Linked DNA regions of Homo sapiens: regions 2, 3, 4, 5 and 6 are each linked to region 1. Evidence: fine-mapped expression QTL. A gene starts in region 1. Each other region holds a variant in brackets. All regions are shown on one strand. Distances are from middle to middle. Region 1 holds the start of GALNT2 (polypeptide N-acetylgalactosaminyltransferase 2). Region 2 overlaps GALNT2 (polypeptide N-acetylgalactosaminyltransferase 2). Region 3 holds the start of LOC124904542. Region 4 overlaps GALNT2 (polypeptide N-acetylgalactosaminyltransferase 2). Region 5 overlaps GALNT2 (polypeptide N-acetylgalactosaminyltransferase 2). Region 6 overlaps GALNT2 (polypeptide N-acetylgalactosaminyltransferase 2).

Evidence for each region.
Region 2: its variant is fine-mapped to the expression of GALNT2 in esophagus mucosa (GTEx, PIP 0.99).
Region 3: its variant is fine-mapped to the expression of GALNT2 in whole blood (TOPMed, PIP above 0.99).
Region 4: its variant is fine-mapped to the expression of GALNT2 in cerebellar hemisphere (GTEx, PIP above 0.99). The same link has a PIP of 0.9 or more in cerebellum.
Region 5: its variant is fine-mapped to the expression of GALNT2 in whole blood (INTERVAL, PIP above 0.99).
Region 6: its variant is fine-mapped to the expression of GALNT2 in blood mononuclear cells (TOPMed, PIP above 0.99). The same link has a PIP of 0.9 or more in T cells, fibroblasts, lung, monocytes and whole blood.

Annotation. Positions count from the first base shown.
Region 1 is chr1:230,064,932-230,070,128 of GRCh38, forward strand. GALNT2 (polypeptide N-acetylgalactosaminyltransferase 2) reads left to right here and starts at 2,307. Exons shown (of 16, transcript NM_004481.5): 1 at 2,307-2,475. The coding sequence starts at 2,350. RefSeq lists enhancers at 1,523-1,682, 4,037-4,116 and silencers at 1,813-2,622, 3,063-3,122.
Region 2 is chr1:230,222,667-230,227,863 of GRCh38, forward strand. The region is part of intron 3 of GALNT2 (polypeptide N-acetylgalactosaminyltransferase 2); the gene reads left to right. Among named protein-coding and RNA genes, the nearest start is that of GALNT2, 160 kb to the left of the region's middle. RefSeq lists enhancers at 3,381-3,882, 3,883-4,382. The variant A/G (reference allele first, on the strand shown) is at 2,321.
Region 3 is chr1:230,269,070-230,273,701 of GRCh38, forward strand. The region is part of intron 14 of GALNT2 (polypeptide N-acetylgalactosaminyltransferase 2); the gene reads left to right. LOC124904542 reads right to left here and starts at 3,041. Exons shown (of 5, transcript XR_007066928.1): 1 at 2,601-3,041; 2 at 566-656. RefSeq lists an enhancer at 1-175. The variant G/T (reference allele first, on the strand shown) is at 1,645.
Region 4 is chr1:230,134,357-230,139,553 of GRCh38, forward strand. All of the region lies in intron 1 of GALNT2 (polypeptide N-acetylgalactosaminyltransferase 2), which reads left to right. Among named protein-coding and RNA genes, the nearest start is that of GALNT2, 70 kb to the left of the region's middle. RefSeq lists enhancers at 2,561-3,061, 3,062-3,562. The variant G/A (reference allele first, on the strand shown) is at 2,521.
Region 5 is chr1:230,147,347-230,152,543 of GRCh38, forward strand. The region is part of intron 1 of GALNT2 (polypeptide N-acetylgalactosaminyltransferase 2); the gene reads left to right. Among named protein-coding and RNA genes, the nearest start is that of GALNT2, 83 kb to the left of the region's middle. RefSeq lists an enhancer at 2,876-3,105. The variant C/T (reference allele first, on the strand shown) is at 3,127.
Region 6 is chr1:230,279,555-230,284,751 of GRCh38, forward strand. GALNT2 (polypeptide N-acetylgalactosaminyltransferase 2) reads left to right here. Exons shown (of 16, transcript NM_004481.5): 16 at 1-2,568. Among named protein-coding and RNA genes, the nearest start is that of PGBD5, 140 kb to the right of the region's middle. RefSeq lists an enhancer at 2,746-2,905. The variant C/G (reference allele first, on the strand shown) is at 2,364.

The sequences.
Region 1 (5,197 bases):
CCTTTAAAATCTAATCGTTTTACTAAAATATATTTAGGAGTTGATAATTCCAGATCATTTCCCAAGGTACATGGAAGTCACTTTTGACATGTACATTTAAATTTTCCCTTATTCCTGGATTATTTTCTGGGGTTATAGTTTTAATATTAATTAGGTTTTATTGTTTAATGTTTGTACTTTAGGGACTCCACTTAACATGTATTTTGGTCTTCCTTTCCTGGCTTTTATTTTAACCTCTTCTCTCTGAACCTTTTTACTTCTATCTTTATATTATTTTCAATTTCTTGATTGTTTTCTTGCCATTCTTCAGTGTCCTTTTACATATTTTCATTTGAATATATTTTCCCTTGGACACCTTGTAATTATTCTTTGTTTCTGGGATAGTTTTTGTCATTACTTTCAATTTCCTTCTTGAATTTGCTCAACCCTTGTTGCATTTCTTCCTAATTTTTGTCTAGTCTGTCTTCAGTTCTTGAAATTTCTTATCCTAGATATGTGTGTGTGTGTGTATGTGTATACAAATACGTGACACTTTGTTCAGTTTGACATGTGGTATTACAATTTTCTTATGCTTCATGGTTTTTATTGTGGGGGTTTTCATCAGCGAAAATGTTATGATTTATTTTTTATCATCAGAAATGTGATTTCTGTTTTCTTTTTGCAGAATCTTTAAATGCAGTTGATTTGATGTTTTTCTGTTACTAGGCATTTTGAGGCAGGGTTCCCGGTTCAAGAGTGTTTTCTTTTATCTGTGTACTGAAATGCAGTTTTTAATAGATAATGTTGGTGTTTGGGGAGGGGACTGGCTGTCTTCTCTTTCATTTCTGCAGGATTTGTAATTTTCCCTTCTGACTTCCTTCTTTCCCTTCATTGTCAGGCCTCTGAAGGACATTATCTTCTTTTCGTATTTATCTGACTTTTTCCCAGAAACAAGGCTCCTTCAAGCCTCTCACCTCTTGTCCCATTTTCTTTCAAATCTCTTCCCTTGATCAATAAGGCACCTGACCTCTGTTCAGTTTTTAGTTCTTGGTGTTGGACTTTCTATTTATAAAGAGGTGACAACCCTGTACTTCACTTAAGTCCTTGGCAATAGTGGAGGGAGCTCAGTTGGAATTTGGTATCTTTTCTTTCTTCTACTTAAGTAATTTAATGTTCAGTTCATGGCATTCTCTCTAAGTAATGCTGAAGGCTTGTTTTTGTTTCGTTGAGGATATGGGTACGGACTTATATCAGGCAGCTGCCATTATCCTCTGACCGAGAAGCTCCTGAAAACATTTAATATATCAAGTTCTAAGTAAAATTTCTGTCTTTCTTAGGAACACTGGAAGCTTTGCGTGTTGCAAGGGCATCACCAAGGTTACATAGATTATGTTACAAGACAGATCGTTTTCTTGTATCGTTAAAGATGCTTAATGTGCTTTTTAAAGAACGCAACGAATGAGAAAGAAAAGATTTTAAACAATATATTATTGCTTTCCTTCTTCCTCATTTTGTGTTTATTGAAAAGAACAACTCTACCATTGATAGCTCTGTCACCCACAGAAAAATGTTCTTTTGAAAATTACCTTCTCAGTTCCTACCAACTCAAAACCTCCACATCTGCCTATATAGATAAATAAAATCGATACCAGCGGGTCAGGAATGTTTTGCTGCAAGATTAGTGAGAAAACTGCAGCAAGCAGCAGCAAAGTCGGGTTCAAGCGGGCGGTTTGCACCAAAAACTCAGGTCAGTTGGCCAATAAGAGCAAGCCCGTTAAGGGTCTGAGGTGGCCCCAAAGACCAAGGCTGAAGAGGTGACAGTCTGGGCAGGAAGCACCGAGGCCACTACCGCCCCCGTAATCGAGAGGCCCCGTGTGCGTGAGCAAGGCTCTTTGCCCACGTGTGCGCGCGCTCCAGTCGGGTCCCGGGGCAGCCACCTGTCACTCACGGGGGAGGGGGCGGCCGGCGGGGGGAGCACGCTGAGGGGCGGGCGGCCGGGGGCGGGGCGGCGCCCAGGCCCTCACGGCGGAGCCCGGCGTGCTGCAGCCATGGAGACGCGGCAGTCCCCTCCCGCGGCCCGCGCCCCGGCCCCCGCAGCCGCCGCCGATTGGTCGCCCTTTGCTCCCTGACCCCCCTCGCCGCCTCCGAGGCCGCTGCTTCCTGCTCTGGTGCCGCGCGGCGCCGCCGGCCCGGGGCGGAGCTCGGGCGCCGAGTGCGCGCCGCCGCCGAGCAGTAGCACCGCGCGGGAGGAGGAGCCGCCGCCGCGCCCTTCCCCTTCCTCCGCTCCTCCCCCGGCCCCCACCGCGCCCGCGGCCGGCCCAGGCAGCACTCGCGAGCAGCGGCGGCCCCGCCGGCGGCCGAGTTGGGAGAATGCGGCGGCGCTCGCGGATGCTGCTCTGCTTCGCCTTCCTGTGGGTGCTGGGCATCGCCTACTACATGTACTCGGGGGGCGGCTCTGCGCTGGCCGGGGGCGCGGGCGGCGGCGCCGGCAGGAAGGTGAGTGGAGCGCCCTGCCGCGGCCGGGCCCCTGCGCCCACCCCCCACCCTGCGCCCCTGTCCCCTGCCCTCTCCGCGCCGCCCCTGCGCTCCTCCGCCCGGACCTCCGCTCGCGTCGCCCGCCCTCGTCCCGGGCCTCCGCGCCGAGTGCCCAGGGCAGGGGTGCACCCGGCCCCTCTGCGCACGCCGGGCTCCGAAAGGGCGGCCCCCGCAGCCTTTCTCTGCCCCCTCTCGTGGACGTCGCCCCTCTCTCTGCTCGTCGTAATTCGAGTCTTGTCCGGCCGCCGGGAGCCCCATCCCCTGCGGTTGGAAGTTTAGGGATGGGGGTGTTGGGAAACACAAAGGGGGTGGGGAGGAGAGGAGAGAGAGGCGACCGCTTTTCCAACGCGTCATGTACAGCAGGAGAGAGGAGTCCAAGTTTCTTTTCAGCCCTTTGATACCAGCGGCTGCAAATCCTCGTCCCTTTCCCCCTGTCACTCCGCGGGGCGTGGGTTCCGTGTTTCTGCCACCTTCTTTGCCCTTTACCTTTGGGGGGCAGGGGCGGCCGCTCCCGTGCCAAGTAAAGCCCCAGGGCCCGTGCGAGCCAGGGGCCAGTGCGCCCCTGCGCCCCGAGCGAGGCCAGTCCCGGCCGTTCCCTTGCGGCCCCAGCGTTACCCTCTGCCCAACCCGGCCCCCGGCCCTCCCGCGCGAGCCGGACGTGGCCTCCTGCGCTTGCATTTTCCATCCCCACTCCCCGCTTCAGGGAGAATCCCTCTTCTGTGGCTGTGTTTTTAACATGCTCCAGGGGCCGAGTGATCTGGCTGTGGGGACCGTGTGAGCCGCTCTGCGGTTCCGCGTCCTCGTGCCGCCGCTCCGGACGGCCGGGCCCTGGGCATTCGGGAGGATGGTGAGCGCCGAGAGGAGCCGGGACAGCGCGGTCCTGCGGCCGAGCGCCGGCCGGGAGAGCAGGGCGTCGGGCTGTGTGCTGGAGCATGCCGGCAGGGGACGTTTGTAGTGTTTTACTGGCTCCTCGGCTTTGAAAGCAGCGTTATCTTTTCCGAATTCCTGTAACCCTCGTTACTGTGACATTTAGTGTCACCGCAAACCCAGAAAATTCTGAGTTAATGGAGATGGACTACGGGTGGTTGGGTTGGAACAAGAGAGTGGTATCCTGAAACAAGCCAGAGGGAACTAACTAGATGAACAGACTTCAGTTCTGAAGTCAGACCCCTAAATGTCCACGCCGGGGTTTGGCTGCTTCAGAGGTTTTTTCTTTGCTTCATTCATTCATTCATAGCCGAAGATGTTAGGTGGAATGGGTGCCTTATGTGGTTTCTGGTAAATTACGTGGATTTGTTTTATCTAGAAGGGCAGAAATAAAGCCCTCTTTCCACGTGCTGAATCGGCCTAGCTTCTGAGCTGACATTGTACTCTTAGCGTTGTTTTTGTAAAAAATGGTATAGGTAGTATATGTACGCGAAGACTTGGTTTATTCTTGAACAGCAAAGAGCATGCAGGCAGCAAAAGCCGTGCAGTCCATTCAGAGATATAATCGTGTAAAACTGGAATGATTTTTAAAACTTTGCTTCCCGGTAAACTGTGCCTTGGCCACTCTGCATAGCCTGGTGTGCTGGTGAGACCTGGCAAAGCTTTCTGCCTTTCATGCAAAGAAAACCAAACACATAAGCCACCCTTGGCGTTTCTCTTTCCTTAGTCTGCCACTTTCATTAGTACACGTGATTAGAAAGAGCAAGCGTGCTCGTTCGCCTCCCGGAGGCTGATTCCTCACTCTGGTGGGCTTCAGTTCCTGGATGGTGTGAGGGGTCTTCCATGCAGAAGTCTTCAGACACTCCTGAAGTGTGTGATTCTTAGTTTGTTTTTTTTTGTTTTGTTTTGTTTTGTTTTGTTTTTTTTAAAGAATTCCTGGTGGCAATATAGACAGGTACGGAGACCAGGTAGAAAAAGTGGGGGAAATGAACAATTAATTACACATGGATTGGTGATTTGGGATTCTATTCTTTCTGTCAACGAACCATAAAATTTAATGCTACCCCTTAGGATGCTTTAGTGATTTGTCGGTTGAGGAAGAGGTGTGTAAATGCAATAGCTTTTGAAATTGCAGTGGAAGACTCATTAACTTCGTGTGGTGGACCCAGGGTTAAAGAGAAGCCTTAAGATGGTTTCTGAAGGAGGTAAATAGAGCCCTGCTGTCACGAATGCCTGATGTATAGGAAAATCGTGTAGTCTTCTTTCTTCCCCAATTGTTTCCATGGATTTAGACACTAGAAGTGTCTCTAAATTTATTTCATTCTCATACCAAAAAAAAAATGTGGTTTGTTTGGCTTGTAAAGTATGGACATAAAAAAAGATAGCGGGCCATGCACAGAAAGGCAGAATTTAAAAGCTAGCTATAGTTTTTTTAGAGATAAGTGGACCTATATTTTTTCTCTTGCCTCATACTGTTCAAGTCAGGGCTTTTATTCCATATTTAGCCAGTTTCTGCACATCCTGACGTTTTTCATAGGGTACTAGGCTGCAGTATTGGGCTTTAGGGATCGTCTGAGGGGAGTCCAACTAGGATTTCTGCTGCTTCAGCAGCCCAGCCCAGGCTTGTCATTGTGTGCCCTGCCTGTTAAGTAACTCATCACAGAACTGTTATTCTCCACTTGGCAAAACCCAGAGAGCCAGCTCACCTCAGATTGCAGGTTTAGTAAACTAAGCAGGAGGGAGTGCTGAAGACCAA
Region 2 (5,197 bases), 160 kb after region 1:
TTTATAATTTTACTATTTTGCATATATGGAGGGTTTTACTTTGGGCATGAGATGTAGCTACCTTTAATTGAGATTTTCGTTCCAGGTGCTATGCTAAGCAATTTACACACATTACTCATTTAATTCTCACAGCAACCCTATGAGGCATAGGTACTGTTGTTATTGTTACTAAGATTTGATAGTTAGAGAAACAGAACTTGCCCCATTAACCAGGCTGTGGTGAGGTCTAAACAACAGCCTGCCCCCAGAGGCTGCAATCTTTACTTCTCATTTCTATGAATATTTGATGGGTATTTTTTAAAAGCTAGTAACATCTATACTCATTTCCAAATTCAAATATACATGTTCAACCAACCTGATCGATTACATTCAAAACCTTTGTTATTGATAAAAGCATTTGAAACTCAACATTACAGTGCTAGGAGTTTCTGCTTATTTCTAAGCATGAGGGGCTTAGAAGATATATATTCATGGATTATACCCTTATTGACATAAAATTACCCCACTTTATTTGTTTTTCTTTTCTTTTTTTTTTTTTTTAATAGAGATGGGCTCTCACTGTGTTGCCCAGGCTGTCCTTGAACAAGTTTTCCTTTTTTGCCATACATTTTGCTTTGCATAAATGTTAATCTCCTACTTTATTTCACTTACTCTTGATACATTTTTGTATCTTACTGATTTTTTTTCTTTTTTGGATGCCATTTTGTCTTAGGTTTATCTTTTGTAACACATATATTTTGATTTTTAAGCCAACCTGATGGTCTAAAGTTTAATAGACTCTTAGCCATTTTTTTTTTAATTTTATTCATTTACTTTTTTTGAGATGGAGTCTTACTCTGTCACCCAGGCTGGAGTACAGTGGTGTGATCTCGGCTTACTGCAGCCTCCGCCTCCCAGGTTCAAGCGATTCTCTCCTGCCTCAGCCTCCCGAGTAGCTGGGACTACAGGCACCCGCCATCACACCGGGTAAATTTTTGTATTTTTAGTAGAGACAGGGTTTCGCCATATTGGCCAGGCTGGTCTTGAACTCCTGACCTCAGGTGATCCTCCTGCCTCGGCCTCCCAAAGTGCTGGGATTGTAGGCGTGAGCCACTGTGCCTAGCCGAAAAGTTCGTCTTTTTAACCACAGGCCAAAACAGAGCAATTCAGTGTATCTGAAAAGAGTGGTGTCCTAAAATGTCACCCTCCACAGAACTTAAGCTTTTCTCCTGTCCACTTGGGACAATCAGAACTGCTCAGGGGTCCCACAGACTCCATTATCTGGCCCAGCTTTTGTGGGGAGAACTGCAAGAGTAGGGTAGGAAAGAAAACCAACTGCCTGAATAACCTCTAAGAAGGGTGCTCTAAAGGATTCACCACTTTGAGACAGGCAGAGCAGATAAAAATGAAAGCACATCTCTTCATGGAACAATGGAAGTAAAAACTAAACCCTCAGCTTGGAAACCAGAACTCACGTATCCAAGAGGACGATGGTGGGCACCAGGAGGCAGAGGGAGTTACTGGAGTTACTCTAGCAGGACCAAGGGTGCCACTTGTCCCAGGGGAGTAGCAAGAGGGAAGAAATGGAATGTGCAGTGTTCACATTGTCTGATGAGCAGTGTGAGCTTCCATCCAGAAAAGGCAGCTTGTCCCCTGGCATCGGGAGGAATGAAAGTTTAAAGGACAATAATAATTTAGTCTCTCTGAAATGACTCTAGCCTTAAATGGTGAGTGGGACCTGGCAGCTGAAGTGCAGCCCTCGGAGGGCATGACGAGAGAGTTCAGACGGCTTCATCCAGGGCTGTTATTTTCTCAACTTTCAATAGCTCTTGACTCTTGAAAAGTTTTCAGCTAAAATGTAGTGTCTGTAAAACTGGAGGCACTAAAGGGCAAATGGTGCTCTTTGAATGAAAAAACATTTTTATTCCATCAAACAGTGGCTTGCTGAAAGCTTCAAGGGGAAACCTAATGTTTTTCCCCTTCTGTTGGAGAATACTCACGTATTCTGGGCAGCATTTTCTGTGGCCGGTGCCGAAGCGTGGAGTGTTTGGTGAGCGAAGAGTGTGTTTTTGGATTCTCCGCTTGGCCTGAGTGTGTGTGCATGTTTTTTGCCTCTGGAACCCTTGGCTTTTCAATGAGATTAGAGGACTTCAAAGGGAGTACAGTAAATACGATAGGCTTGAGTTTCCTGTGTCACAGGGAGGATAAACATTTTGTTTTAGAACATGCTTCCGACTCCTATACGTTGCAGAATGCAGAAGCCTGCGGTATTCAAGAAAGCTATTTTAGACGAATAATTTCGAAGTGAGACAAACCTAAAGTTATTAATTGAGCTAATTCA[A/G]ATCTCCTGTTGACCAGATTTTTAAGAAGCTTGATTTCACAGAGGTCCTGCAGAGGTTTTTTAATGTCTTAGGATTTGGTTCTGTTTAGTTTTGAAAGACCTCTATAGAAATAAACTCTGTAGCTATTAGGACTAATCAGAAATTAGTGGATTTGGTGGAATATTATGCCATTATGACTGTTTGGAGGATTATTAAGGGTATGTTTTAATTAAATGAACATTATACAACAGCTAATGAACTTTTTTCCATTTTCCTTTTTTTGGCTTCCATTTCCAGTTTACATTCTATCCAGTAGCCTGCCTAGACTTTCTGTAGACACCATAGCAACACATCTTGAAAATGTGAAGCTGAACATCTTGTTTGGGATGGGCCCTAGTGGAAGTGCCCTGAGGTTGAGAGATGCATCCGCAGCCCAGTTTGGGGTTGGACTGAGGAGGGCCTGTTTCCCGTGGCCCCTTCTGCCTTGTGGTGGATCCAGTCTCCAGCTTGGGCTAGATCTTTTCAGCCTGGTCATGTTGGGCCTTATTCCCAGTGGCTTAGGCTTGACTCTCTCTGTGTTAGGCTTCATAGTCATGGTAGACTTTGAGGAACACAGCGTGGGCTGGGCCACTTCATGTATGGTGACCACAGGGGGTCAGATTGTGGTAGAGAGGAGGAATGGGAAATCAAAATCTGGAGGAGGCAGAGTTTTTTTGTTTTTTTTTTTTTAACCTCTGTGCTATATGGTCCATACCAGAGTTCCAGGTCTAAATTCAAGTTATCCAGATGAGTCTAATTATGGCTCCACATTAGAGAACTGTTTCACTAATAACACCTCTCACTTTTCTGTGTGTTTCTTAAAATGAAGTCTAAGAGCAACCTGTATAAGCCTTGCCTTCAGGGGCCTTTTCGAATTCAGATTCCCAGGTATCACCCAGACCTACTTATTCAGAATGGGATGGGAGAAGCAGTCAGGGCCTAGGCATGTTCATTTTCATAAGCTCCATGAATGAGTCTTATGCTCACTAAACTGTCAGAGCTTTGTGATAATCAGAAGTCTGTGGCCTTAAAGCAACTGCCCTTACCGCAGAAGCAAATCAGAGTCCTGAATGAGGAGCATGCGCCCAGCCTGCGGTTGGCTCTAGCCTGGCTGGAGCCCCACCTTCACAGCAGAGGCATATATGGACATTCTGTGTCCATTCTGTGTCCATGGGCAGCTGCATCAGGCTGCCAGGATGGTCAGTGAAACAACAGACCTTCCTGCCCTTTTCTTTCCCTTGAAATGGGAATGGCGTAAGCATTTTCTGTGGATGAGGGCAAGGAAACAGAAGGCATTCACCGCCTCTATTGCATCACCAGCTGTGTCCAGAGCCTTGATTCCAGCATCCTGAGGTGCTAACACCCTCCCCCTGCCACCGAATATCTGTATATGAATGGAGAAATGGGCTAGCAAGCAACAGACTGTATTTTAATATGTTCCTTTGATTTTTCAAACTTCTGGCCCTGCTGGCTAATTTAACGCCCCCACAGGCTCTCTCGGCTCATCTCACCTGGCTGATGGGTGCACATGGAGACTCGCAGACTTTCAGGTGCTGTGTTGGCTGGAGAAGGAAAGGTCCACGTGGCTGCAGGGCTCCCTGGGCTGCTCCATCTTTCCGAACACATGCGGAGGCAGGTGCCTTGACCTGGCTCAGAGGCAGGGGCCTCGCCACTCTCTCCCAAAGTTAGGGGAGCCAGTCATCGCACCCGCGGACATTTCTCCCCCTCCCCATTTCACTCACCCATCTCATGGTTGAGAAAACTGCCTGTGTTTCTCCAGCTGTAGAATTTGCTTGGATTTTTAACCATTTTTCCTTATGTAGGGTAGCTGAAATCAATCACTCTGTGACTGAAGAAGGTGGAAAAAACTGCAGGGTGTAAACCTAAAGAAAGCAGAAGGAAGGAAATAAGGAAGGTAAAAGAAGAAATTAATGAACTAAAAATCCAGTGGAGAGTATATATAAAGCTTCATCTTTAAAAAATATAAATCTCTAAAAATGCTGATTAACAAAAATAGAGAAGAAACATTAATATTAGGTGTAAAAAAGCAGATATAACTAAGATCATAAGAAAATTAAAAGTATACTTTTATGTAAATAAATTTGAAACTTACATGAAATTGATAATTTTCTAGGGATATTTAAGTTACCAAAGTCTCTTAAGAAATAAAAAAATGAATAAGTGCAAACCATCAAAAGAAATTTTCAGCAATAAAAAATTTGCCTTCCCAAAATTTCACAAAGCTCAAATGGGTTTGCGTAAAACCCAGACTGTTTCAGAGAATAGAAAAGGAGGAAAGCTACCCTATTTCCTTCAGTAGTATCTAGCTATGAAACCAGAAAAAGAAAGTATAAGAACAGCAAATTGTTCAATTTATGGTTATAGACTCAGAAAATCCTAAACCAAATACTAGCAAATCTAATACAGCTATATATATATATGCTATATAATACAGCTATATATATATATGCTATATAATATAGCTATATATGCTATATAATACAGCTATATATGCTATATAATACAGCTATATATATATATGCTATATAATACAGCCATATATATATATATACAAGAAGAGTTTGTTTTAGGAATGTAAAAATGATTGAATATCAGAAAATAATGTAATATATCTTCTCAGTGAATTAAAGGAGAATAGCTGTAGGTCATATTAATGGATGCAGGAGGGAAAGCAGTGAAATTCAGCACTTGTGAGGGAGTTTCCTTCACCTGATGAAAGGCATCTGTAAAACATCTATGGCAAACACAAAGCTTAATGATAAAAATCTGCTTGTGTTCAATTTAAAGATAGGATCAAGGCAAGGTTGTTTTTTACCACTTTTAAAAATTGTATATTG
Region 3 (4,632 bases), 200 kb after region 1:
AGTGCTGACTCCCTGCTCACTCTCTGTCCCCCTCCAATGGCCACATCCTGGGATTGCTCAGAGAAATTTTTTTTTTCTTTTTTTTTTTTTGAGACGGAGTTTGGCTGTGTTGCCCAGGCTTTTTTTTTTTTTTTGAGACGGAGTTTGGCTGTGTTGCCCAGGCTGGAGTGCAGTGGTGCAATCTCGGCTCACTGCCACCTCCGCCTCCCAGGTTCAAGCCATTCTCCTGCCTCAGCCTCTCAAGTAGCAGGGATTACAGGCACGTGCCACCACACCCGGCTAATTTTTGTATGTTTAGTAGAGACGGGATTCCACTATGTTGGCCAGGCTGGTCTCGAACTCGTGACCTCAAGTGATCCACATGCCTCAGCCTCCCAAAGTGCTGGGGTTACAGGCGTGAGCCACCACAACCAGCCTGCCCAGAGAACTTTTACAAAATGCTGATGCCAGGTGCTATGCCCAGAGAGCCTGATCTAATTTGTCTAGGGTCAGAGGGCACCACCAGATCTCTAAGAGCTAACAAGTGATTCTAAATGAGGATTTGGCCTGCTGTAGTGGTACACACCTGTAATTTCAGCACTTTAGGAAGCCAAGGCAGGAGGATTGCTTGAGGCCAGGAGTTCAAGACCAGGCTGGACAACATAGGGAAGCTCCGTCTTTACAAAAAAAAAAAAAAGATTAGCCAGTTGTGATGACCTGTGCCTGTAGTCCAAGCTACTCAGGAGGCTGAGATGGGAGGATTGCTAAAGCCCAAGAGGTCGAGGCTGTAGTGAGCTGTGATTGCACCACTACACTCCAGCCTGAACAACAGAGTGAGACCATGTTCCTAAAATAATGTAAAATAAATTAGGGCCGGGCACGGTGGCTCACGCCTGTAATCCCAGCACTTTGGGAGGCTGAGGTGGGTGAATCACGAGGTCTGGAGTTCGAGACCAGCCTGGCCAACATGGTGAAACCCCGTCTCTACTAAAAATACAAAAGATTAGCTGGGCATGGTAGTGGGCACCTGTAATCCCAGCTACTCGGGGAGCTGAGGCAGAAGAATCACTTGAACCCGGGAGGTGGAGGTTGCAGTGAGCCGAGATCGCACCACTATACTCCAGCCTGGGTGACAGTGTGAGATTCTGTCTCAAAAAAATAAATAAAAATTTTTAAAAAATAGGAGTTGAGGAGCAAGCGTTTTCTAGTGGAAAGATGAACACATCAGCACATACAATGTGATGTGAGATGGCAGGATGACATGATGTATGTTACACCCTCAGCTTGGGAGCACCTTACTGCCTGGGCCAGTCTGGGGCCAGTGGGCTACTATCAGTACTTTCCAATAGAACCATGTGCTATGATGGGGATGCTCTACATCTGCCATTCAGTATATCAGCCACATTGTGGCAACTGGGCACTTGAAATATGACTAGTGTGAATTACAAGTTTAATTTCATTTCATTCTGGTGAATTTAAATGCAAATGGCCCTGGGTGCCCTGTAGCTAGCACATTAGACAGTACGGCTCAGATATTCCAGCTCACAAACCCACTGTGCGTGAGTCCTCTCTGAACCGATAGAAAGTGATGCTTTTTTGCATAGCGTGTGACACGGATGAGAAACGAGAGGGTAAGTAATATTTCCCAACTGAAAATAGGGCCTG[G/T]TGCTTTGGAAGAGTGAGGTTTGTTATCTGGTTTCCGGCTGAGCCTTGGCAGACACACAGGAAATGAGAAAATTAATGGCCATGCCTTTTAAGAGTGGCAGCTCAAAAAAGCATTTCTTAAATATTTATGAACTTTATTTTACAAATTCAGATAATTGAAATGCAACAGAAGAACAAAACGGCAACTAGCTCTGTTGTTTGCCCAGCTGAATTAGTTTTTCTGGAATCCTGTGTAAAGTCTGCTTTACAGTAATTAAGCACACAATAGCAAGGAGGTTGTAAAAACATTCAGACATGATCTTTAACTGGGTGTCAGCAGACCATCCAGCATCCGCCAACACCTGCTGCCAGGGACAGTCTGGAACCCTTCTCCATACCAGCGTTGTCCCTCTTACTCAGGACTCTCCTCTTCACTGTGAGTGGGCGTCTCTGTGTACCACAGTTTCACACATCCTGGTGGTGTCCCCAGCCCCTGTGAGTGCAGGGACGGAACAATGTGCTTCTTCCTGGCCCTCTCCATCCTGAACGCCATCTGCCTATGGGAAACACACACGGCTTCCTCTCTACACTCCACACCTTCCATACTCTGTGACCCAGTGAATAGGAAAAAAGCTGCTTTTCCTCCTTTATACTCTCACAAAACTTCTCACCTCTGACACCAGCCCTGTGGGCTTTTCCCCCCACACCAAGCAATTCTCCAATTCTCCAATTCTCTGCGGACACTGAGTGTCATGCCTGTCAACTCAGTTCTGACACTGCCTACCCAGAGTTAGCACAGACCCCACGGGTTATGGGCTTCCTCCCACAAGATGCTTCTACTCCAGATGCCAGTCACAAGTCCAAGTTGTCACCTGCTGTCTGACTGTAAATCAGGGCTCCCGCGACCTCGCCTTGAATTCATTCATTTGCAAGAATAGTTCATAGAACTCAGGAAAACGGTTTACTTCGTGGCTTACCTGTTCATTAGGAAAGACTGAAACCCAGGAGCAGCTGGACGGGAGAGATGCATAGCACGCGGTGTGGAGGTGGGGTGTTGGAGCTTCCACGCCCTCTCCAGGTGTGCCGCTCTCCCAGCGCCTCCGCATGTCCGGCAGCCACATCCCGGAGTGCAAGGACTTTGACGGAGGCCTCATCACATGGGCATGATCTCCAGCTCCTCTTCCCTTCCCAGAGGATGGGGTGGCGGGGGACTGACGGTTTCAAGCTTCTCAGCATAACCTGGTCTTTCTGGTGACCAGCCCCGTCCAGGAGCCCATTAGAGTTGCTTCATTAGAACAAGACACTCCCATCACCCAATAAATTCCAAGGGAGTAGGAGCTGTTTGTTGGGAACCGGGGTCAAAGACCAAACACTAGAATGAAAGATGCTCCTAAAACCCCTGTGGCTCAGGAAATGACAAGGGTTTTAGGAGCCTTGTGATTGTGCCAGAGACCAAATAATTATTTTTATGATGTCACACTGTCCTAGAGTATGGGTGACGTGAGTGCCTGTGGGTGCTTGGAAGAGCTGGCTGGAACTCACCCATGTTGAATGACAGCATCATAGAATGTTGGGATTCGACTCAGGGTCGGGTGGCCTTCCCCAGAGAAGGTGGCCGGCAGGGCTGGGTGGGTCAGGGCTGCCTCCATGCCGTGTTTGGAATGCTACAGTGCACAGGCCAAGCAGGTGCTTCTACTCTAGGACTCTTCAGAGCCTTTAATAGACTGAATTTCCGAGAGATAAACACAGCACAAAGTCTGTTTCCCAAATTCATTTGACCTAGAATCCGTCTTTCCTAGGATTCCTCACAGAGTAGAATGTGAGGAACACTAATTAAAAGGTGAGAAAATGGAAGACCCGGGAAGTGAGCAGGCTTGCCCAAGCCTCCCTCCCTGTTAGGGGAGGAGGAAGTCTTCAGACAGGTGAAGGTGTCTTCACTGATTCCTAGACGGGTGTCCGTGCCTCTGCATCCCCTCTGCTGATGCTGAGAGCTGGAGATGGTGCATCCCGCCAGTGGTTGTATAAGGTCTGAATGCTAGAATCTTTAGGGTTTGGTTTGGTTTGGTTTGGTTCGGTTCGGTTCAGTTCGGTTTGGAGACAGGGTCTCGGTCTGTCACCCAGGCTAGAATGCAGTGGCACAATCACAGTTCACTGCAGCCTCGGCCTCCCAGGTTGAAGCAATCCTTCCACCTCAGCCTCCCAAGTAGCTGGGACCACAGGCATGCACTGCCACACCCGGTCAACTTATTTTTTATTTTTAGTACAAACAAGGTCTCGCTATGTTGCCTAGGCTGATCTTGAACTCCTGGCATTAAGCAGTTCTCCCGCCTTGGCCCCCAAAGTGCTGGGATTATAGATAGGCCTGAGCCACCACACCGGGCTGCATCTTCACCTTTTAATGTTTTTCTAATGACGGACTATTTGTTCCAACATGATACAGATACTAGACAGTGAGGCTTCTTTAAACACTATTTGTTCCTTTCCTTACCTCTGTTTCCAAGAACCAAGAAAAAAACAGTGTCTTCATAGCACATAATAGTGCCTGAAGTTGCAGAATACATTTATTTGTGTGTCTTTCATGTTCCCCACTAGAAAGGGAGCCTGGCTCTGTGACAGCGCCGGTGTCATACAGGTGTGCAGCAGGTGGTCATGGGACAGACCGATAGAAAGACAGACAGACAGACGGAGGGGAGGGCCACTGCAGCGTGCTGGGGCTTAGAGAGGAAGGGGATGGAAGTGGATAGTGAGTCCCTGTGGGGTTTTAAACTGGAAAGGGCCTTGCTGCCCCTCGATATTAAGGGGTGTTCATCCCTTTGAGTGGGACAAATGGAGAGTGATGGTCAGAAGCCTCACCTTCCAGTCCCTGCTGTGGCCCTGCCTGGAACAGGCTCCGGCCTCCTCTGCCACCTGGGACCATGTCTCATTTAGTATCCAAAATGGTTGTCCTCTCACCCTGTCACAGCCTTTAACTTGTGTGTGTTTGTACATATATGTGTGTGTTTGTTTGTT
Region 4 (5,197 bases), 69 kb after region 1:
TTGGCCTCCCAAAGTGCTGGGATTACAGGTGTGAGCCACTGCACCTGGCCTATTTGGTATTTTTGAGAAGTGCAGCTCTAAGTTGGTTTTATCCCCTTCCCCCAATTCCTAACCAGTTGTTCAGGTGAGACAACCATTTGTTATTTCTTTGGTTTCAGAGAAGCTGTATCTATCTATCTGTGGTGTATCCCTCTCAAACCTCCCCTCATTCTGGGTTGGGCCCAGGAGGAGGGTATCCAACCCAGACCTGGTGGAGAGGAGCAGCTTTTTTTAAGGCCAGTAGTGCTCAATATTTATAAACTCCTTCTGTATCAGCTCATGAGACATTTCACAGTTGTACTCTTCGCCTGCTTGGCTGTGTGACTGAGAGGAGCTGGGCGTGGGGTGATACAGCAGCGAGCAGGTGAGGTATCGGGGCAAGCCCACCAGCATCTCTCCCGTGTCATCTGCACTTCAGTATTGGATTCCTCCCCGTGGACCCAGTGCTCAGAAAATCCAAGGCCAGTCTTGGTGCTACCACTTGCTTAGACAAATCACTGAGTTGTCTGTGTCAGCCAGTTTCTCCGCTGTATTTAAGTATGATCAGTGTGAACTAAAAACCTATTTGGCCTGCCTGTTGTGAGGCTTAAATGAGAGGAAGTATCTGAGAGTGTTTCAAATCATCTAAAGCATTGCCCTCACATAATTTCAAAGCAATATTAATGTATTAATTTGAGCCTTTAGGTGCTAAGGGTTGTAAGATGCACCATCATTTTGTCAATTTTAAGATGCATTCCCCATTTCAGAGATGTCGGAACAGGAAAAGCCATGCATCCTGGAATTGGTGTTTGGTCCTGACTCTCATGGGGGGTGAGAAATGGTAGAGACAGTGTCCTAGACTCGGGGGTGGGGATGCGAGGGGTGTAGAGGAAGACAGTCATGGATACCCATATTTTATTCTCTAATGATACAGAATCTTCATTTTGGGCCGATTCCTGTGGCTCTATTTTCTCTTTGTAATTCTACTTTGCGATGCATGTTTCAGAAGAGAAACCATTTTCCAGCTTTCTTCATCTCATTTCCGTTGTGCTAACAGAGAAACTCTGAATTCATCTGAGGTGCTTTTTACTTTTCTTTCGGTGAATTGTCAGGCATGAGCCACAGAAGCCATCCGAATCAGGTTTCTGTGTGGAAATCACACGGCGGGGAGGTGGAGGCACAAAATGATCTTAATGACATGCACATCTTCCTGCTCCCTTGTGGAGCTGAGTGTGGGGGGCCCTTTGCAGTCTGGCAGGCTCGGCTCTGGATTTGAATTCAGTCTCTGCCATTTATCACTTGAGGGATCTCAGATGAATGCTCTTTCCCTTTCCCTTTCCTTGAGACACAGTCTCCCTGTGTCACCCAGGCTGGAGTGCAGTGGTGTGGCAGCCTCGACCTCCTGGGTTCAAGCAATCCTCTTGCTTCACCCTCCTAAGTAGCTGGGACTACAGGTGTGCACCACCACGCCTGGCTAACTTTTTCATTTTTTTTTTTTTTATAGATGGGGGTCTCACTGTGTTGCCCAGGCTGGTCCTGAACTCCTGGTCTCAGGCGAGCTCCCCACCTCCGCCTCCCAAAGTGTTAGGATTACAGGCGTGAGCTGCTGTACCTGGCCAAGTGCTCTCTTTCTGATCCTTAGTTTTCTCTTCTGTAAAGTGAGGATAAAAGGATATATTCTGGAGCGTTGTCAGGAGAATTGAATGAGCTGCATGTGTAAGCCCTAGCAGAGTTTCCTGGGTATAGAGGAGGCACTTAGTCAGCGTCACCTCCTTCCCATCTTCTCAGGAGTTGGAGGGTGACAGAGCAGAGGAAATTTAGGTTTTCACTCTTCTGGGGGTGGGTCAGGTAACTATGATCGAACCTGCACGCATTGTTTTAGTGCCACGTTGATTGGGTCGCGCCTGATCATTTGCTTCTGGTCTGACTGTCCCAGATCCCTGTCAGCACATGTCTGGCACCAGCCATCCTCTGATAACCCTGCCATAGAGCTCCAGGAGAGAGTGGGGCCTGTTCCTGGTGGCCTGAGTTGTTGAATTGTACTCTTTAGACATCGAACCTAATGTTTCAAAACACACATTCATTCGTGAGGCCTGTCTGCCGCGCTTTCTCTCCCGGATGTGAGTTCCAGCACATGCATGCACCCCCTCACTGCCCCCCATCCAGAGCCACAGCCTGCCCTGTCGGAATATGTCCAGCCCTAATGAGGGAGGCGTTGTCTTCAGATCACACACTCCGCAGCGGCTCTGCTCTGCCGCGCCCCTTCAGGAGCGCTGGGTCTGAGAGAGGACTTCAGAAATAACGGGGGCAACGTTCCGCTTTGATGCTATTATTAGAATTTTCCAAACACCGCTTGTTTGTAGCTTCACAGGGACTTGGAGAGAGGCGAGTGGGAAGAGGTTGCTGCTAGTGCCATTGTACGGGAAGCTCAATGGCATTTATCTGGTCCAAGGTCATTCAACAAGAACAGGTTGAAATCACCCTCAGACCGAAGAGCCGGCC[G/A]TCTGTGCATTTTGCTTTTCCCGCAGTTCAGCCGGGACTCTGCTTCACGGATGCTTTCACCTCACGGACAGCGAAGCCAGACACACAGGCCCTGCGTGGTTGGGGGCGAGAGCATTTTTCCATAGTCAGTGGGCTATTCCGAAGCTAAGAGACCGTTTCCTTGAACCAAAAGGCTGATTCTTTCCTGCTGGAGCTCCTGTTTTCATACTCATTTCCCTGGGGAGTGGAGCTGAGGCGTGTGGACTGTTCCCACCCCCGCCTGCACCCAATAAGCTTTGGGGGAGCCAAATAGTGCTTTTCACTGGAGCCTGAGTGGATGCAGGGAGGCACACATGCTTCATAGAAGGGAATCAGTGATCTGTCCCGCTGCTCTGGGGCTCCAGCATGGAGCTTCACGTAGGCTGGGGTGGGGTTGGTTCTGTGTGACAGCCTGCACAGAGGTGGTGGATATGGCCGAAGCCACTTCTGCTTCATGCTGTGTTTGGGCCAGATGTCCTTGGTGGCTGGGAGGGTCTGCTGTGGAGGTGCCCATGGTCAGAGAGCCTGCAGGCTGCAGTGGCTGACCTCTCCCCTCCCCACCTGGCTTTGCTGAGAGGGTGCTTGCTGGGTGTTCTCAGCTGGGCAGCCAGCCGAGGCTGTCACAGTGACAAGGGAGGAATTATTTTCTCTTCAAGGGGTGGATGTGAATTACTTAATTATTTGCAGAAGTTTCATTGCTTTTTACTTACATTCTCCTGATTCCTCCCCAGTGGAAGCATCAAGACCCCACTGCAACAGGCTCGTCAGCATCTTGTCACAGCTGTGGATGTTTGCCAGGCTTTCTGGACGAGTCCAGCTCTAGATTGCAACCTGGTTTAGCTACACACGTTGAAAAGGAGAAGAAAAAAGTAGAGATAAGATAGGATTTGGCTCAGGATTGATGTTGTATAGGGTTTGACTTTTATTATCTTTCACTCTTGAAAAGTGAAATATATTCTCCTTTGATTTCTGTTGACGTTGTTGGAAATAGAGATTTCCTTCAAGTCTTTAAACAGCATTATTATCGTTTCCTAGGTTCTTAGTTTTGATTTGTTTTACAAGCAGTAGTGCTTCATTCTAATCCTCCTGCATCCATTTTACCTTTTTCTCCTTGGAATTTGTTCAGTGATGACTTAATAGAAAAAACACCTTGCATGTCGTTGCGTGCGTCTTTTCCAGACCTCTGTCTGTGGCCTCTTCTCCTTTCATCTGCCATTGCCCAAGTGTTACTGGAAAGGGGTCCTCATCCAGACCCCAAAGGACGGTTCTTGGATCTTGCACAAGAAAGAATTCAGGGTGAGTCCATGGAGTAAAGTGAAAGCGAGTTTATTAAGAAAATAAACAGGGCCAGGCATGGTGGCTCAGAGCGCCTGTATTCCCAGCACCTTGGGAGGCCAAGATGGGCGGATCACCTGAGGTCAGGAGTAAGAGACCAGCCTGGTCAACATGGTGAAACCCCATCTCTACTAAAAACACAAAAATTAGCCAGGCATGGTGGTGCGTGCCTGTAATCCCAGCTACTTGGGAGGCTGAGGCAGGAGAATCGCTTGAACCCAGGAGGTGGAGGTTGCAGTGAGCTGAGATCACGCCTCTGCACCCCAGCCTGGGCGATGCAGCGAGACTCTGTCTCAAAAAAAAAAAAAAAAAAAATGAAACAGAAGAAAGAATGGCCACTCCATAGGCAGAGCAGTGGCATGGGCAGCTTGACTGAGTATACTTATGGTTATTTCTTGATCATATGCTAAATAAGAGGTGGGCTTTTTATGAGTTTCGTGGGAAAGGGGCAGGGATTTTCCTGGAACTGAAGGTTCCTCCCTCTTTTAGACCATCTACGGTAACTTCTTGACGTTGCCATGGCATTTGTAAACTGTCATGGCACTGATGGGAGCGTCTTTTAGCTATTGTGTTATAATTAGCATATAATGAGCAGTGAGGATGACCAGGTGTGGCTTTTGTAGCCATCTTGGTTTTGGTGGGTTTTGGCAGCTTCTTCACTGCATCCTGTTTTGTTTATCAGTGGGTTCTTTATGACCTGTATCTCATGCTGACCTCTTGTCTTATCCTGTGACTGAGAACGCCTAACCTCCTGGGAATGCAGCCAGTAGGTCTCAGCCTCATTTTACCCTATTCAAGATGGAGTCACTCTGGTTCAAACACATCTGACATGAGCACTCAGTGTCTACCCTCACGGGGGTTATGGTGTGAGGAGACCAACAAGAGCTTCTGGCTTTTTCTAGCTGCTACTTCCTGTTGACCATTGACAGCCACTTTACCCGGCTTTGGTCCCCTCACCTTACTGTTTGAAAGGTATCTAATAATCCCCATTTCAGAGATTTATATTTAAATGAAGACATTTAGATGAGAACAATCAGGGTCCTCTTGCTAAATCTGAAGAATCCCGATGTTATCGTTGAAGCCAAGTGCTCCTTCCTGGCCACATGTGTCCCTTCTGATGAGAAGTTTATCCCTCTCGGTTCCCTGCCACAACTTCCAAGCTGCATGGGACACACCAAGACCCCTCTTCTAGGCTAAGACAGCACAGTGCAGCCTGGAGTTCAGGGTCTCAGCCTCTGCCTTCAGCAACGCCTCACTCCTCCTGCCCCATGAAGGGAGGACGGTTATTCTGCAGCAGGGCTGCTGGCACTGGGCCTGGAGGGGA
Region 5 (5,197 bases), 82 kb after region 1:
GTTCAAACCTTCTAGCTGAAAGCCGCCTACTTTGGGGTTAAGGTGTGGGTTTGCCTATATTCACTTTGCTGTCCTTGACTCTTGGCCAACATTCCTAGAGCCCCTGCCACGGGACTGCTGTGGGCTGAGACTGGTGTCGCCTCTCCCTTGAAAGCATGGCCTGCTCTGCCGTGTGCCTGGCTTGGCCACTGGTTCTCCTTTCCTGGTCCCGCGGGGGCTTTTCTTTTCTTCTCTGTTGTAAAATAATCTCAGGCCAGGGCCACTCCTGGCCTACTCTTCGATTCTGCGAACAGTGGCTGGCTAGTGGTGTGGCCACATTCCCCTGCAGTGGTTGAGGCTAAACAGTCACTGTTGAGAGAAGCTGCCTTCCTCCTCCAAGAGTCCCTCCTTCCTGCCCTGTTGCCCTCTTCCCGTTGAAGGAGAGCTTCTGTCTCCTGAGTGAGGGCCTCAGCTCTGCCTGTGGGTCACCTCTGGCTCCCAGCCTGGAAGGCATTGCAGGCTTCATGAAGAGAGCTCGTCTTTAGCTGCTATTTCTAAGCATGATTGCTTGTTGGAGGTTGGCAGTGGTAGATGCTCCTAGCACACGTCCACACCTTCAGGGCAAACGCTCTGTCCCCAGACACTGTCCCTGTTTAGTTAGTTTCCTAAACTATGATCACTCAGCAACCTCGAGGATAGTCACTGTATTATTACATACAGGTGCAGCCCTCTTACATACCTGTGTGTGTGTCCAGCCCCACTGGACACATGCCTCCCACTTGCCCACACTCTTCCCCATCCCGCTTTAAAGCTTCAAATCTGAAAAGACAGTGGCGCTGCGTGGCTGAGAGCCACGAGGTGGACTTTAGGTGAAGGGCTGCCCACCGGCACAACCAGATCAGTGGCCAGCTCGGGGCGTGCACAGTGCACTCAGAGGGAGAGCCCTGTGGCACTGCGTTATTTTCCTCCTAGAGCTGAAGCCAGAAACCTGATAGGGAAAGGGGGCGTTTTCAGGGCTGGAGTAGTTCAGCACAGTCCCTTCCTCACTGTGGACTCCTTTTCTAAATCTGCAAGTCACAGGTAACCTGGGTGCATCCAACAGGTCCCACAGCCCTGGAAAGCCCTCGTTTAACACAAGTGCTCTCTGTCCTTGCTGCAGAGGCGGCTCCACGCCTTGCTTCTAGCGGTCCCTCACTCGCCTTCCGGAGTTAACTCCAGGGTGTGGGTCAGCCTTTTCAAGGGGTTTTGTTTTCTTTTTTTTTCTTTCTTTCTATTTTTGTTTTTGAGACAAGGTTTGTTGCCCAGGCTGGAGTGCAGTGGTGTGATCACAGCTCACTGCAGCCTTGATGTCCCTGGGCTCAGGTGATCCTCCCACCTCAGCCTTCCGAGTAGCTGGGACTACAGGTGTGCACCACTATGCCCAGCTAATTTTTGTATTTTTAGTAGAGACAGGGTTTCGCTCTATTGCCCAGGCTGGTCTCAAACTCCTGGGCCCAAGAGATCCACCCACCTCACCCTCCCAAAGTGTTGGGATTACAGGCATAAGCCACCATACCCAGCCCCACTCCTCCCCACCTTTTTTTTAAACAGGGCCTCGCCCTGTCACCCAGGCTGGAGTGATCACAGCTCATTGCAGCCTTGACCTCCTGGGCTCAAATGATTCTCCTGCCTCAGCCATCTGACTAGCTGGGACCACAGGCACGTACCACCACGCCCAGCTAATTTTTGCATTTTTTGTAGAGACGGCGTTTCTCCATATTGCCCAGGCTGGTCTCGAACTCCTGGGCTCAGGCAGTCCACCTGCCTCAGCCTCCCAAAGTGCTGAGATTACAGGCGTGAGCCACTGAGCCTAGCCTACTTGTTTAATTCTTGATTGCTTGATTTCAGAAGGTGCTGCTTCTGCTTTTATGGCTCCTGAAGTCATTTTATGGTCTTGACCTTGTCTCTCCTGGAGCGGGTGGGAGGACATTGCGAGGCCACCTAGATTGGACTTGTGTGGTTGAGCACTGGGTTCAGGAACATCCCTGGAGGGTGGGTGATGGTTGCTGCCTGCTTGCTGTTTTATAGGGTGTTTCTCTTACAGGCTGCCAATAGCTTGGTGGTTTGAGCATCCTATTATTGCAGTGATTCTTAGGTCTGGCGTTGAGGGCAGCAAGATTTCTGCCTAAACATAGTCCTTCTCTGTAGTAGTGATTCTAGGATGAGCCACTGTAGACAGGGGCATGTATTGAGTGCAACAAGCGGTTGAGGGACCTTAGATTTTGAGGGTTTTTAAAAACCGCCTGATTGGTTTGTGTGCGTCCTGCCACAGTGTTACCTAGGTGGGCTTAATGAGGTGGGAGTGGGCTTTTTGTTTTGTTGTTTTATGCCTCAGCCATGTAAATATAAACAGATACATTGAATCATTCAATGTCCAGAGTGGGAAATTACAGCCAAGCCCTCCTCACTTTTAGAATAGCATGGCGTGAATAACTGCAAAACCTCCCTCTGGTCTTTCCTGCCTCTTTAAGAGTTCTGTCTCCAGAGACTGGCAGAGCCGTCTCTGGGCAGATTTGCCGAATTGTTTCAGCAGGGCTTCTCCGGTGGCCATCAGATCAATTGATCTTGACACATGGGGTGCCTCTGAGGGCTTCTCACTCTTGATTTAATTCTCAGAAACGCTTCTCAACACCGTTGGTGTCTTTCTTAATTATACCATAATAGAGGTTGACAGCCACACAGTATGATGGACCCCAGGGTGAGGATGGCTGGGTGGGCTTGTGGGGCTGCTGAGGCAGAGACCTAGGAGGGTGCTCTCCATTCCTGGATGCGGAGCCCATGAGTGGCTTAAAAGACATGCACTGGCTCCGCCCTGGGGCCAGGAGAGCCATCGCCTGCTTGGTGACTGCAAAGCTGCCTACCTCCGTGTGCTGCCGTTTTTCTGTACCGAAGCTTCCCTCTTTACCTCACCATAGGAAGCCTGAGATGTAACACTCAGAAGAGGCTTGACAGGCTTGGAATCAAAGGCATGACTTCATACATCACCCAAGGTGTCATATTTCTTCTCAGAAACTTATATTTGGATAAAACAAAAATCCTTTTTCAACCTTTGAAACGGTTTCCAACAGCTGCTTTAAAAAGACATAGTACAACAACTCCTTCCACTTC[C/T]TCTTTCTGCCCGCTTTGTTTTTGTCCGCAACCTTTGCAGAGAAGTGAATGTCTCTGTTAGAGTTGGAGTTGGAAATTGGGGAGGGATGTGTGACTTGATTCTGAAAGGAAAGTCTCATCTCTTTGGTAGAGCATTTTTGTTTTGTTTGTTTGTTTTTAGACCTTAAGCTCTACTTATAATTCTGTCTAAGACACCTTTGTGGAGCAGTTGGAGTGCCTGGCTCCTCATTAGAGAATGCGCTGCGACATTCAGCCTCTCCTTGGCCTTCTAGGATGGCGGGAGGCACAGACACACACTCCTTTTCCCACCCAGGGATTTGGCGTTCAGAATGGGGGCTTTGACTGCTTGGCCCTGACTGTGCAGTTTTCTGGATGGAAGCCTGCTGTCTTCTGAGCACAAAGGAATCCATCGTTTTCTTTGCTTCCCTAAGGAATCTATTTTCCCAGTGGCAGAGCAACTTAGAGAATTCCCAGCCAGGGCCACCATTCTCAACTCCTCAGGACGAGGCTGGTGCACCCGGCATGCAGGTGTCTGTAACTTTGTGTGACTTGTTGAACTCTTTCCTATTTAAGGTGCACTACCTGGGTTGCCTGGAGCACAATATTCTTCCTCTTGTGGAAATATGTTCAGGATCTTGTGTGGTGTCCTGGGTTTGATTTTATAGCTTTGCCAACATAATGATTACAGTTGACGATCACCGTGGCCACCGTTGTCTTTTCCCTCCATTCCCCTGCAGCTTTCTGGACCTCCGGGATGTCCTCCTGGAGGGAAGGCCCCTGGAGAAGTGTCCCAGTAGAACGCACTGTTGTGTCACTTGCTCTGACCACCGTTGACATCGCAGCACAGCGCTGCACACCCGTGACAGGGTGATGGTAGAAGATGAGGGTCGGATTGTCCACGTAGTGCCTCCAGGAAGCTCAGGATGATGGCCAAGCCAGATATGTAAGGTGGCTTTGGGGCACAGGATGATGCCCTCGAAGTAATGCATGGTCTAGTTGTTTTGTAAACAGTGCTGTTTCCTGAAGAAGCAATGATTTTCTGACTACCCGGCCTCCCCAAGATAGCCCTGGGAGGAGAATTTCTGATTCTCTCTACAGCAGTGCCTTCTTCTGTAGGATCTCCCCACATGTCCCTGTGCCCACCACGTAAGCTAAGGAAGGAAAGCAGAGCTCCTCAGTTCATTGATGGCTTCAACTACAGATGAACCAGTGTTACAGGAAAGGGGTCCCGATCCAGACCCCAAGAGAGGGTTCTTGGATCTCGCTCAAGAAAGAATTCAGAGCAAGTCCGTAGTGCAAAGTGAAAAGTTTATTACAAAAGTAAAGGAATAAAAGAATGGCTGTTCCATAGACAGAGCAGCCTCGAGAGCTGCTGGTCGCCCATTTCTATGGCTATTTCTTGATGATATGCTAAACAAGGGGTGGATTATTCATGCCTCTCCTTTTTAGACCATATAGGGTAACTTCCTGACATTGCCATGGCATTTGTGAATTATCATGGTGCTGGTGGAAGTGTAGCAGTGAGGACGACCAGAGGTCATTCCTGTGGCCATCTTGGTTTTGGTGGGTTTTGGCCGGCTCCTTTACTGTAGCCTGTCTTATCAGCAAGGTCTTTATGACCTTATTTTGTGCCGATCTCCTATCTCATCCTGTGACTTAGAATGCCTTAACTGTCTGGGAATGCAGCCCAGTAGGTTTTAGCCTCATTTTACCCAACTCCTATTCAAGATGGAGTTGCTTTGGCTCACATGCCTCTGACAAAAGTAAAGCTCTCAGGGGGCTCAGGCTGATGGGTTCCCTTTTACTTCTTTGAATCCCCAGTCGGGCTTGGAACCATGGCCTGTAAGCGCATCCGACACTTGGCTAGAATCTCGAACCTGACTCTTTCAAAGATGAGGGCAAGGTTTTTCAAATTGTAAGTTGTGACTCAGTAGATCATGAAACTAATAGAGGAGAATAACATCAGTATTCATGATGAATAATTAAATAGAAAATACTGGAGCACATCATACATGTAAGAGTAGGTACCCTTTTATGACACCGTATGTGGATGGATGGGCGTGCATGTATT
Region 6 (5,197 bases), 210 kb after region 1:
TAATATACCTCAGTATTCCATCATGGTCTGAAAGTCAAACTTCGGCAAGGCACGGACGACTGTGCAGACACAGCAGCGGCAAGAAGCGAGAACTGCCCTCCCCCTCCTCTCGGTGCAGCCCAGCCGGGCCCCCTTCCCCAGGCCGGAGCGCCCCTCTTCCTTCCAGCTTTCACTTCTGCCGGCTCCGCAACTGAGTGACACCCAGCGACAACCGACTGGGGAGTGGTAGAAGCAACTGAACGGATGCGTGCGAGCTGAGGACAGGGCGGGAGGAGGGGGCACACATGCCCCAGGGGAGCGAGGAGAACTCTTGAAATCTCCATTTTCAATCCCTTCGAAATCACGTATGGTTTCCACAAAGCCGAGTCGTGTCACGTGGCAGGTTTACGTCAATAGTCCCTCTCTCTGCTCCTCCATTCGCAAGTGTCTTCCTGGGCCAGACTCCCCTCCACCTCATGTACTTGCTATATTGAGGATGAAGTTTTCTATGGTGGGACACTAAATATAAAGCTATATAGAGAAAGAATGTACGGTCAGTTCCCTATGGTTTCTGTAGATCATCGTCATCTTGTATATTCCCCACAAAGCCGTTCGCAGCTTCCGGGAGAAGGGGCCAGAGCCCGGTGGGGCCAGTTTCTCACAGAGGGAGGAGGTGGCCTTTGTCCCCTGGAGCCCGATCAGCCAGTTGGTGCTACTGCTGTGGCCAGCTGGGGGGCTTCCTCCAGACCACCGGCCTCGGCCCCGGCATCCCTGTTGGGCGTCAGCCTGAGAGTCCCTACTGTGCGTCAGAATCCACCTTGCGTGCTGTGCGTATCTGTGAACCTGGAGCGGTTACTTATTTTGACAGATATCACTTTGGGTCTTTTTACATTAAATTTCTTTTCTCTAAGGAATATAAGACATACCCCATAGCTCTGTGTGAGCCAGCAATACCGCTGCCCCCTGGCGACAGGGCAGACCAATGATGCCAGGCAGCTGTCACACGCTAGTATTGGCTTCATTGTGATCTGAGCCCTGCACGCTGGGCCTTCAGAATTAATGGCCAGCAGTGTCAGGGATGAGCCCGTCAGCCAGGGCACAGGCCTGGCTCACAGTCCTGCACACCTGCTGGCCTGGGGAGCTCCAGCCAGGCAGCGAGTCCTGCCCCGCCCGCAGCTCCCTCCCACACCCCGCCTGGCCAAGATGACTGCTTCAGGGGGCTTTGGGGAAAGAATTAGGAAGGGTCAGAACCAAACAATACCTGCTCATTTACACTGAGGATTCAGGGCGGGAGACAGGAGCCTTGGGGTCCTGTTAAACCACAGACAGTTATGAACTGAAAGTCATAACGGGGAGAGGTGCCTGGCTTCTACCTGGGTGCTCAGGAATGTTCCTCGTCACCCCTGCCACTCTGTGGTCGGTGCCCTGCTTCCTCCTCCACTCCTGGCCGCCTTCTCCAGCGCCGCACACACAGATGCTCAGTCTCAGAGAGGCTGGCACGGCCTGGCAGTCTGAGAAAAGCGTCAGTTAGGCACACCTGCAGGCCCCTCGGTGGGACAGCGGCGGCCTTGGAGTTAGGAGCCACCCTGGGAGGTTGTGCCGGTGCCATGCTCCTCCCTGTGTCTTGTATGAAAGGGGCCACTGTGTGTCTTCCTCCCCGGCGGGAGCCCCACATGTGTGCACTGTAGGACAGCGGCCCCGAGGTGGAAGCCTGGCTGGAGGGCTGCCCTATAGGTCTTCTCTTCCCGCCTCCCCTGCCATGCAACCAGATGTGTTGTGAGTGGGCAGCGTGCCCCCACGCTGGAGTAACTCCGCACGCTTCTGTCTTTCACGGTGGGCGCTCGGGGGGAGCCTGAGGAAAACCCCCTTAGGTACCTGTGCGAGGCTGTGGAGTGCAGGCCAGAGCAGGGTGTGCGTAGCCCCCAGCACCCAGGTTCTTCTGTCAGACCCTGTGACCTGCGAGCTGCTACTACTGTAAGGAGGGAAATGGATGAATCTGGCTCGTTTTAAAATCACGTTTTCTGACGAATCCTTTGCCCCTTCACCTTTACCCCGCCCGCACCCCTAGGCCCTCTCAGCCTTCCTATCATCCCACGTGTCTACCCAGACCCTTGTGCGGCCCATGCCCTGGGGGCGGCGTCCTGTCCCTGAGCTGGGAGGCGGCTTTGGATGGTCCGGGCGTCAAGAGCAGGGGTGGGCCGGGGAGGGGTCCTTTGCGGTGAGCTATGTTTACATGACACAGTGTGCCAAAGTGACTTACTGCGGTTGCGTTAGTTTTTAATCATCAGGACTATCTCACCCTCCCACTCCTGTTTTTAAAACTCAGAATTCTTTCCTAAGAGCCCTTCGAGCAAAGCGTGCCGAAGTTAGTTGTCTTCTCTGTG[C/G]TGGTCCTTTCTTATGTCCTCATAAAAGCTCAGATGATGGTATCTGTGAGTATGTTTTGCAAATTCAAAATATAGTTTGGTAATTTTTTTTTCCAGTTGATTTTTAAAAAGAACTGCTGTACAGAGCTTGTACTTTGTCCATTTTATAGATGGAAACCATCCTTGAAAATTGTTTAACTTAAATAAAGAGAAGATACTTTCTAGATACCGCTCTTTGCTGGCCAGAGTCTGTCCTGGTGTGTGAGGGCTGGGTGGGGTGGGTGTGGGGACTGGGATTGGGGTCAGCCTTCTGCAGCTCCTGCTCAGTGGCTGTTTCTTATCACCTTTTGCAGATGCGCTTTTATTGCTGTGCCCTTTGGTTGGTTATTCTTACTTGTAATAATAATCATTATCATTTGTGGAGTGTTTATGATGTGCCAGGCACCCAGCCAAGCCCTTAAATACATTTGCATTTTACAGCCACAGGGGAAGCTGGTGAAGGAAGTTGCTAGCCTGCTCAAGGTCACGTCCTTCCTGTGTACCTGCCTGGAGCCAGCCCTTGGCACTCGCACCCAGACCCTGTGCTCCAAACCAGGGGACAAATATTTTTACAGTTTTTCAAGTAGTTAAGATTTATAGACTTGTTTACCAGTTACCTGGGGCTCTTCGGTTCCATCCAGGCGTCTCTGAGGTTCTTCAGATACTATTTGTTTTATTTTATTTTTTTTGAGACGGAGTCACCTAGGCTGGAGTGTGGCGGCGCAATCTCGACTCACTGCAACCTCCGCCTCAGTGATTCCAGCGATTCTCCCGCTTCAGCCTCCAAGGTAGCTGGGATTACAGGCACTCACCACCATACCTGGCTAATGTTTTGAATTTTTAGTAGAGATGAGGTTTCACCATATTGGCCAGGCTGGTCTTGAACTCCTGACCTCAAGTGATCCGCCAGCTTCGGCCTCCCAAAGTGCTGGGATTACAGGCGTGAGCCACTGCACCTGACCTTCGGTACCTTTTAAATTCCTGCATTTGAGCCAGGCCACAGTAGTGCGTGCCTGTAATCCCAGCTATTCAGGAGGCTGAGGCAGGAGGATCGCTTAGCCCAGGAGTTTAAGACCAGCCTGGGCAACGAAGTAAGATTCCCATCTCAACAACAGAAGCAAAAGTACCTACATTTGAACAGCCCCACAAGGGTTCAAGGAAACATAACCTTGACCAATTATTTAACAATTTTTTTTTCAAGACAGAGTCTCACTTTGTCGCCCAGGCTGGAGCGCAGTGGTGCAATCTTGGCTCACTGCAACCTCTGTCTCCTGGGTTCAAGTGATTCTCCTGCCTCAGCCTCCCGAGTAGCTGGGATTACAGGCCCCCACCACCACACCCGGCTACTTTTTTGTATTTTTAGTAGAGACGAGGTCTCACCATGTTGCCCAGGCTGGTCTCAAACTCCTGACCTGAAGTGATCCACCCGCCTCGGCCTCCCAAAGTACTGGGATTACAGGCATGAGCCACCGCACCTGGCCCAAATTATTTAGCAATTTTGATTGACATTGGGGTGAAGTAGGAGGTTGGCCACTGGCAGGACTGGCCCAAATGAGTGTCTGAAACCTTCTAGAGACCACATGTAATCCATTTTCTTTCCCTATTATTTGGGACACCAAAAATTTGCTGCCATCTGAGAAGACTAAAGGAACTCTCAGCATCGTTTTGTAGCACCCACTGGAGCCCCTTAGGGATCCCGTGTGTGGTGCCTGCTCTGGCAACAGGGAGAGGTTTATTTATTCGGTAACTATTTGTTGAAAACCTGTGTTGTGCTGATAGTCCCAAAGAAGACCCAGGCTGAGGAGGAAACACGTTAAATGGTGACAAATAGGACAAGCCAAATGCAGGCTCTCGGCCTGGCGGGTGCTGCACCCTTGTTGGAGCCGTGTCTCAAAGGTTCTGTGGGATTCGGACTTGGCGAGGGAGAGCGTTGCCGGCAGGGGCTCAGCGTCTGAGAAGTCCCATCACCAGGACATAGCAGCAAGATCCCCTGATGGGGACAGCCTGGGAGGAAGAGGACAGACTGGCAGGCGGGCCCGTGTGTGAGCATTGTGAATGCTGGGGAAGGCTGTGGGGGTGGGGAATGACAGGAGTTCCTGACTGGAGCAGAGAGGGTCAGACTTGCAACGCTTTTCAGAATGAAATATCCAACCCAACTCAGTGATTGGATTCTGCGGTATAACTTCACATTGTCAAGAATATTCAACCAGAAAAATAAAATGCCTCTGACACACTCTTCTGTTCATGGACTTACCTACAGAAGAGAAGAAAAAACTCTCTTCTCAGCAGTTCTTGCCTATTTCTCAGCAATCTCCTAATACAATTGCTGTATTTGATTTTATGCATTGTTTGTGCCTGCAAATAACATACATCCTGTTTCCAAAAGCTGTCGTCTCCCCTAGGGTTCCAAAGAGGAGTGTTCGCTTAGCAGTTTCTGCCTGAGCTCCTGGGGTCCCAGGCTAGGGTGGTCTGGACAGGGGCTACAGAGAAGACCTTTTGGTCCTCAGCCCAGGTGACACCCACGGGTGAGTCAGATTTGAACCAGACTCTGGATGCAATTATAAGGAGCATTGTAGAGCAGTAGCCATGATTTCCTCTTCAGGAATAAAGACCCAGTCTCAACAAGGTGCCAGCCTCCTGAAGGGCGTGGAAAGAACCCTTGCGCGGCACCGAAGCCACTGATTCACATTCGCTGCGGAGTTTCCCTGAGACTGTCCTTCTTGCTCTCAAGTTGGCAGAATTGTCTATTGGAGAGCTTCCATAAAAAGCCCACCTAAATGGAGGCGAGATTAAAAGAGATGTTGTCTTGTATAACA